2 linked regions of the Homo sapiens genome follow. The protein of the gene in region 1 purifies or fractionates together with the protein of each later gene. This does not show direct contact. Each region holds a gene or a part of one and is shown in the gene's direction. Other genes may lie near its edges. The genes, in order: EEF1AKMT1 and TTLL12.

Region 1 (3,600 bases):
TATCCAATTTAACTGGACAAGTAATTTCCCCTTTAATGAGAATAAGTACTCCTTTGATATTTTACATGTTTATGATTTGCAAAAACCATTAAATTACAGTGCATAGGTTTCACCAGGAAAATATGAATCTTACTGTATTACTCTCATGCTGTCTGAGCAATCAGGTCTAGTGAAGGTACAAAAAACTCTGACATCTGTGGTCACTTTCATAGTAAAAATAGTATATAGTAAAATACATGAAGATAACATGTCTTACATGCTATTAAAGCAATGTCAGCTTTGAAAGAAAATGATCTACTGTTTCAGACTCAATTTGACTGAATGTAAACTTCTGTTAAAGTAGTTATAAGCTAGGGCAGTCTTATTTACTGAACACCACCTCCATAAAAAATGCACTCATAAAAGTTGGTTATTGTTTCTCAGTTTGTGTTAAATTTCTTTTAGTTTTTTAAATATATTTTCTTCCTGTTCCTTTTCCAGAATACACCTGATCTTGAAATATTTGGTTAATAGACTTGTCATCAATTCAAAACAAAGTCAAAATGTAGCATGGGTTATTATAAACTGGAAACAGTTCTTAAAATAGAAATTATAGTACACCCAATGTTATAAACCTGTTTCATTAACTACTTACTGAATAGCATCATTTGCCAGCTGAACAGTTTATATCCTTACCTTATACCAGAAAGGATTTTCACATTGCTCAGCAGAATATATAAAATTTAGCAAGATCATGAAATTGGTAAAGAAAATGGAGGAAAGAGAGGGTAGAAGCATAATACAGATTGATTTCTTGGGGAATTGGAAACAAATACTTTGTATCACTTATAATTTGGTAGCTGCTAAAACGTAAGGGAACCTTTCAATAATCAGTGCCTGTATGTGCAAGATAATTAAGGTGTTGTTGACAAAAATCATACATACTTACGGCGCTTGATGTCTAAATACATATATTGACCAACTCATTCAAAACTGAAGACTCTGAAAGACTAACAAGTTTTAAAGGTTCCCCCCCGCTACCGCCAATCCTGTCAATTTTACCAAAGCCTCAATTTGATGTCAACATTTAAAGTCAACGATTTGATTTAAAAAGACTGAGCAGACAATCGACCAATGAAGCCTTGACTTTGAAAATCTACGTGACTCAGTGCAAAATAGTGGGTTTAACTTTAATTAGGATCTTAATTTTTTTTTTTTTAGATGTTGCCTTGCTCTGTCGCCCAGGCTGGAGTAGCTGTGGTGCGATCTCGGCTCATTGTAGCCTCTGCCTCCCGGGTTCCAGCGAGTCTCCTGCCTCAGCCTCCTGGGTAGCTGGGATTACAGGCGCACGCGACCACGGCCAGCTAATTTTTGTATTTTTTAGTAGAGACGAGGTTTCACCATGTTGGTAAGGCTGGTCTCGAACTCCTGACCTCAGGTGATCCGCCCGCCTCGGCCTCCCAAAGTGTTGGGATTACAGGCGTGAGCCACCGCGCCCTGCCAGGGCCTTCATTTTTTTTGTTGTTGTTGTTTTTTTGCTACCATTCTTGGGGGCGGCTGATGAGACAAGCGAAGGAACGACTCCAGGCTGGAGACGGCCCTCAGTGTTGTAAACGCGGGATTGAGACGCTGCGGGGAGATGGCCTGCCTTGCGCAAGGGCCTGGGCGGGAGGGCCTGCGCCTGCGCTAGCGAGACTGGCTAGCCACTCCCACTGCACACGGCGAGTCTGGGCGACTGCGCACGCGCGGCTGGTGAGTGGCGGGTTCGGGCGCAGCTGTAGGGTTGGCTGCGCGCCGCCGAGGCGTTTTGGACTGGGTTAGGTGCCTTTTGTGTGTTTGTTTCTCACCTTTTTTCCAGGGTGGTAGTGGTGGAAGAGTTTAATTAGCAGTGGCTGGCGGATTCCTGAGGGAAGGAGCTGGCGCCGGCCTGAGAGTGGATCCTGGTTGCTGTGTTAGGCGCTGTTGGGCCTCGCGTCCCGGTCGCCGGAAGGCGCCGCGTCCTGTGCCGCGCACGTTGGCGCCCGGGCCTTAGGCAGCCTTGGTGCTGACGGGGAAATTAACCCCCAGGCTACGGCAGCGCGTGGAGGCCTCCCTTCCCTCCGAGTAGAAACAGGACTCGGCCTGCTGTCCTTTTCATCTTTGCCCTCAGAAGTTCGCTGATGGAGTTTGCGAAATGCCCAGGCCTGACTGTCCGCTCCTGGAGGGCGGGCACCCGCGGCGCCTGTCGCTGGGGCTTCTGAGGCAGGTCCCTTGCAGGATGCGGGTGCTGCGAGGTGGAGTAGACTAGGACGCGGGCGGCTTTACTGCGAAACGGGCAGTAGCTTCGGAGGTGCAGAAGAAGTGCTGGGACGATAGCGGGTCCCTACCGGGAGGGAGCCACATGTCAGACAGGAAGGCCTTCCTTATAGGGGTTGTGGTTACATGGGGCGTACATCACAACGTCGCACTGCACACGTACGACCTGCATTTCATTGTAAGCATTACCTCCTTTTTAAAGTTAATTTAAAAACAGGATAAATAGAATTCTGGAAAGCAAGAAGGAAGGAACTGTTTGAGGCAGGGGGACTCAAAGATGAAAACAGAATGAAAACCTTTGGCCCTTTTCTGGACGTAAATTGGATTAAGGGGAGAATCATCCAGCAATTTATAAAAAGTATTTGGAGAATATCTAGGCCTTACCCATTCATAGAGGGAGCCTTGCTCTCCTGCGGTTTACTGGAGTCTGGGATGGCTCCTAGGTTAATGCTCTTTGCTCTGAATCACACTATCTTAACCTAATTTCACACAAGAATGAATGTTGAAATTACAGTATGGTGGTTTTGCCCTAAGTAAATTTGATAACATGGAAATTGAGTAATTTTATCCAAAAAGAGACTAACCACAGCCCCTGAGAAGCCAGCTAATCCCTGCTTATGCTGCAAGCTAACGTGTCCGCCCCTTTGCTCATGCTGTTCCATCTTTCTGAAGTCTTCACTCTTCATCCTTACCTTTTCCTGAGGCCGAGTTGAAGCTCCACCTGCTCTTTCACTCCTCTCCCCACTCAGGCCCTCCACTCTGATCCCATGGCGTGAATGGTGCTTCTCTATAGAGGGCCTCCACCTTACCGTTGGTGTTCGCCATGTGTCTGCCTAACCTAGAATTTCTCAACTGCAGCTTGTAGGGCGGGATACTTCTTTAATGTGGAGGGCTGTCCTGTGAATTTTAAGTTCAGCAGCCTCTACCCACCTGATGCCAGTAGCACCCTCCTTCCCATTTACGGCAACCAAAAATGTCTCTAGGCATTGCCAGATGTTCCCCTTAGCGACAAAAGGGCTCCTCATTCTGTGAGAACTGCTGATTTAGAGTCTGAGCCACATAAGGTCCAAGGTCAGCTTAATAATAATATAATTTCAATATAATCCATAGGTACAAGTTTTAAAATCTAAAGAAAAAAATTTTTTTTACTGCCACTTGTGGGGCAGGGCCAGCCATAGACAGTGTGCCCAGAGTAGCCAGAAAAAATTTAAAAATAATAATAATATAACACAGTACTTCCCAGCTCTTTTGGATTTGAAAAATCTCATAAACCCCCTTAGAAATTTTAAAAACAATAAAGATATGATAAAATAGTGATTTAAAAAA
Region 2 (4,117 bases), on another chromosome or scaffold:
TTTTTGTAGGGTCGAGGTCTTGCTTTGTTGCCCAGCCTGGTCTCAAACTCCTTATTTCAAGTGATCCTCCTGTCTTGGCCTCCCAAAGTGCTGGAATTACAGGTGTGAGCCAGCATGCCCCATCCTAGCATTGTGATGCTGTTTTACTATATTATTTATTTTGAGATGGAGTCTCGCTATGTTGACCAGGTTGGAGTGCAATGGTACAATCTCAGCCTTGGCTTCCACAACAAAAACCGAGGAATCAGGGTTTTCCTCTGGCCATGGTGAAACCCTGTCTCTACTGAATACAAAAAATTAGCCAGGCGTGGTGGCACACACCTGTAGCCCCAGCTACTTGGGAGGCTGAGGCAGGAGAATCACTTGAACCCGGGAGGCAGAGGTTGCAGTGAACCGAGACTGCACCATTGCACTCCAGCCTGGGCAACAAGAGCAAAACTCCATCCCAAAATAAATAAATAAATAAAATGTTTTTCTCTGCAGCCCTCACCAACTTGAGTTTGGAAATTTTTGCCTTTGCAGACCCACCTGCTTCCTACAATGGAATTGAACAAGTCCGTGAATTGGTGCATTTTATTCAAACTCAGTTCAAAAATGTTATCAAAATAGCATCTGAAGCTCCAAAAAATTTTCAGCCTTTGTTTTTTAGCAAATTACAATTCTTACAAAATTGCAAAAAGGAAGACATTGAAATGTATCCCTATGGAGCAATAAAACTCAATGAGAGTTCAAAAGAGAATGTCTTTTGAAATTCTATAACTGAACTGTTTTCTTTTAAAGAGGGAGTCTGGCTATGTTGCCGAGGCTGGACTTGAATTCTTGGGCTCAAGCTATCCTCCCGCCTCAGCCTCCCGAGTAACTGGGACTACAGACGCGGCCACCACGCCCAGCTCAACTGCACTTCGAAACATCCCGACATGTAGGAGTAAATTCCTCTGACGGGTACACTTGGTCTTAATTGGATCAACTGACATTCCGAATCCAAATATAAGTAATTGAGAAGGGCCACGATTTTGCAGCATCCAAATCTGGTGAAACGCTCACAAGAATCGAGAGCTCCCAAGGCAGGGGGCCTGCGAGCTCTGTGTGCCCGGTGCAGGCACAGAAGCGCCGCCTCACCGGGTTCGGGCCCCAGGACACCTTCCGGGCCGTCGGTGGGGCCTTTTCCGGTCCTGACAGCGCCCTATACGTAGGCACCCCGCCCTCCCGGCATTCCCCGGGGTCGCCGCGCGCTGAGCGAGAAAAGCTCAGCCACCATCAGGTGCGCGTGCGCACACGGCGGCAGCCAAACCACAGGCGCGGTCGCAGACGCGCGCCCCCTCCTGGCAAGCTCGCGCGCTCTCGCACGCACCCCGCCGATGCGCAGGGCCTGCCCGGGGGCCGCGGCAAACCGGGCTGGAGGCGGACTGGGGGCGGGGCGGGACGGGGTGAGGGGGCGAGAAGAGGGCGGGGCAGGGGAGGGGTCGGGGGGGCCGGGAGGAGGACGGGGCGGTGGGGAGGGGGGCAGGGGGCGGGGGCAGGGGGCGCGGCAGGGGCGGGGGGCTGGGGGGAGGACGGGGCGGTGGGCGGGGGGCTGGGAGGAGGACGGGGCGGGGGTGCTGGGAGGCGGGCGGGGCGGGGGGCGGAGGCGGGGGGGGCTGGGAGGAGGGCGGGGCGGGGGGGGGCTGGGAGGAGGGCGGGGCGGGGGGGGGCTGGGAGGAGGGCGGGGCGGGGGGGGGGGCGCTGGGAGGAGGGCGGGGCGGGGCAGGGGGCGGAGGCGGGAGGGCAGGGCCGACGGACGGCGGGCGGCGGCGGCGGTGGCGGCGCTGGAGTCGGCGCGGGTGCTGGCGCCATGGAGGCCGAGCGGGGTCCCGAGCGCCGGCCTGCGGAGCGTAGCAGCCCGGGCCAGACGCCGGAGGAGGGCGCGCAGGCCTTGGCCGAGTTCGCGGCGCTGCACGGCCCGGCGCTGCGCGCTTCGGGGGTCCCCGAACGTTACTGGGGCCGCCTCCTGCACAAGCTGGAGCACGAGGTGCGGGGAAGGGCGGCGGGCACGTGCGGCGGCCGGGGTGGGAGCGCGGCGGGAGCCCGCGGCGCGGGACAGGGAAGAGCGCTCCCGGGCGGCGGGAGCCGCGGTGAGCCACCCAGAGCGCGTCCTGGGCAGCTCTGGAGCGGCGTGGAGTTGGGGGCCGAAGAGTGACAGCAGGAGACCGGGGTACCTGCGGCCCTGATCTGCCCGGGCCCGAGACCGGCTGAGGGCTGCGTTGGGAACTTTAGGTCCTCCACACACCCGAGCCTGACACAGCCCTGCGAGGAGTGAAACTCATCACCCCCACTTCACAGATGAGAACACTGCGGCTCCGAGAGTCCCTTCAGAGGGATTCTTTCAGCCGCTGCCTCACAGGGACAACGGGAACCCCGTGAATTTGTGTAGCTGTAACTGTTGGGTTCACAGAATTCGGTGTTTTTTCATTTGATTTGAGCCTCGGGGTCCCCTCATCTTGCAGGTTAAAGAAAACAGGCTGTGAGAGGTGGAGGAGAAATCTAAAGAAAAATGGAAAAGATTGAGAAGCCTCTAGGTTCTCTCCCTTTTTGTGAGGACGGCCCATCCGGCTCACCTGCCTCCTCCACTCCAAAGCGTTCCCCACTGTCCTGGCTGGGGATGAGCCCTGGATTTTTATTGCGTGCCCAGAGGCTGAGGCCACAGCACCTTCCCGGGCTGGCGGGGGGGGGGGTGTTTTCTTTAGCTGGGACCCGACATCTCCTCCAGGTGCTGTCTCCCGGACGGAGATGAGCCTAGTGGCGCAGGTGATGAAGTGGAAACCCCAGAGCCAAGAACAGGGACCCGGGCCGGGAACTAGGAGTCCCTGAGCCTGGCTGCTGGCCAGACTCTACGGTCTCTGAGCCAGTTTTTCTCTGTGTAATCCTGATTGGACTAGGAACCTTCCTGCTGGAAACGTGCAGTGAGTGGCACCTCCTTATGCTACAGTGTAACAGAGAGTTTCCTCTGCCCCTCACTTCTGCCATATGCTTTCCGAGGACCACTCTGGTCCCAGGCCTGTGCTGGGTGGAAGGGACCTTGGTTTGTTCATGAGGACAAAAAGGTTCCCATGGGCTGCGTGGAAGGAGCACAGTGGGAATGACCAGCTCCTGCCCAGCCAGCCTCCACGGCAGCACGCCCTCCCTCGGGCGGTCACTCGCCCGTCTGAGACCTGTTCTCCATCTGGGAAGGGGATGGTGAGACACCATCTGGCTCCCACAGTATTGGAAGGATGGGAGGTGGCATGAGAAATATGCCTGGCACACAGAGGGTGGTCGCCACCGTGCCACGTCCCCTGCCCAGGCCGCCTTGCCTGCTGTTGCCCTACTAAGGGGCAGCCAGTGTTTTTCCGTGACCCTTCCCCAGCCGTTAAGGACAGAGCTGAATCACTGCTTTACCATTCACAAACTTGCAGCTCTTCCTGAGTGAAGCCTCCTGCTGCTACTGGCCCAGGTGTGGAGGAGGCCGCCAGCAGCAGCAGCACCTGCCAGCGCTGTGGGCCCTTACACCCCTGGCCATCAGCCCTCCTGCCTCACCTTAGGCCGGCTGCCCTGGAAAGGATGGGGAAACTTGAAGATACATACATATATATATATATATATATATATATATATATATATATATATATATATATATAATTTTTTTCTTTTTTTAATTGAGACGGAGTCTTGCTCTGTCACACAGGCTGGAGTGCAGTGGCATGATCTCGGCTCACTGCAAGCTCTGCCTCCCGGGTTCAAATGATTCTCCTGCCTCAGCCTCCCGAGTAGCTGGGATTACAGACGTGCGCCACCACACCCAGCTAATTTTTGTATTTTTAGTAGAGATGGGGCTTCACCATGTTGGTCAGGCTGATCTCGAATTCCTGACCTCGTGATCCGCCCGCTTTGGCCTCCCGAAGTGTTGGGATTACAGACGTGAGCCGCCACGGCCGGCCGAAGAGATGTTTTTAAAATGTCTACTCTTCTGTCTGCACAAGCTTCCCAGTTGCAAAACCACTCCCCTTATCTCCTGGGGAGCTCTTCCAGTCCTGCCATGAAGGGGTTGTGGTGAAGGAGAAACCCAGCACCCCATTTCACAGCTGGGTTGAATCCAGGCCAG

What was found.
Region 2: the proteins of EEF1AKMT1 (region 1) and TTLL12 purify together in Homo sapiens (affinity purification with mass spectrometry; 2 studies listed by BioGRID and IntAct, with this or other methods). This does not show direct contact.

Annotation. Positions count from the first base shown.
Region 1 is NC_000013.11:20,772,052-20,775,651, reverse strand, and holds the start of EEF1AKMT1 (EEF1A lysine methyltransferase 1), read left to right. Parts: upstream 1-1,690; 5' UTR 1,691-1,731; exon of another isoform or gene 1,732-1,795; intron 1,796-3,600. UniProt on the Homo sapiens protein: Protein N-lysine methyltransferase that selectively catalyzes the trimethylation of EEF1A at 'Lys-79'.
Region 2 is NC_000022.11:43,184,784-43,188,900, reverse strand, and holds the start of TTLL12 (tubulin--tyrosine ligase-like protein 12), read left to right. Parts: upstream 1-1,766; 5' UTR 1,767-1,831; coding exon 1,832-2,008; intron 2,009-4,117. UniProt on the Homo sapiens protein: Negatively regulates post-translational modifications of tubulin, including detyrosination of the C-terminus and polyglutamylation of glutamate residues. Also, indirectly promotes histone H4 trimethylation at 'Lys-20' (H4K20me3).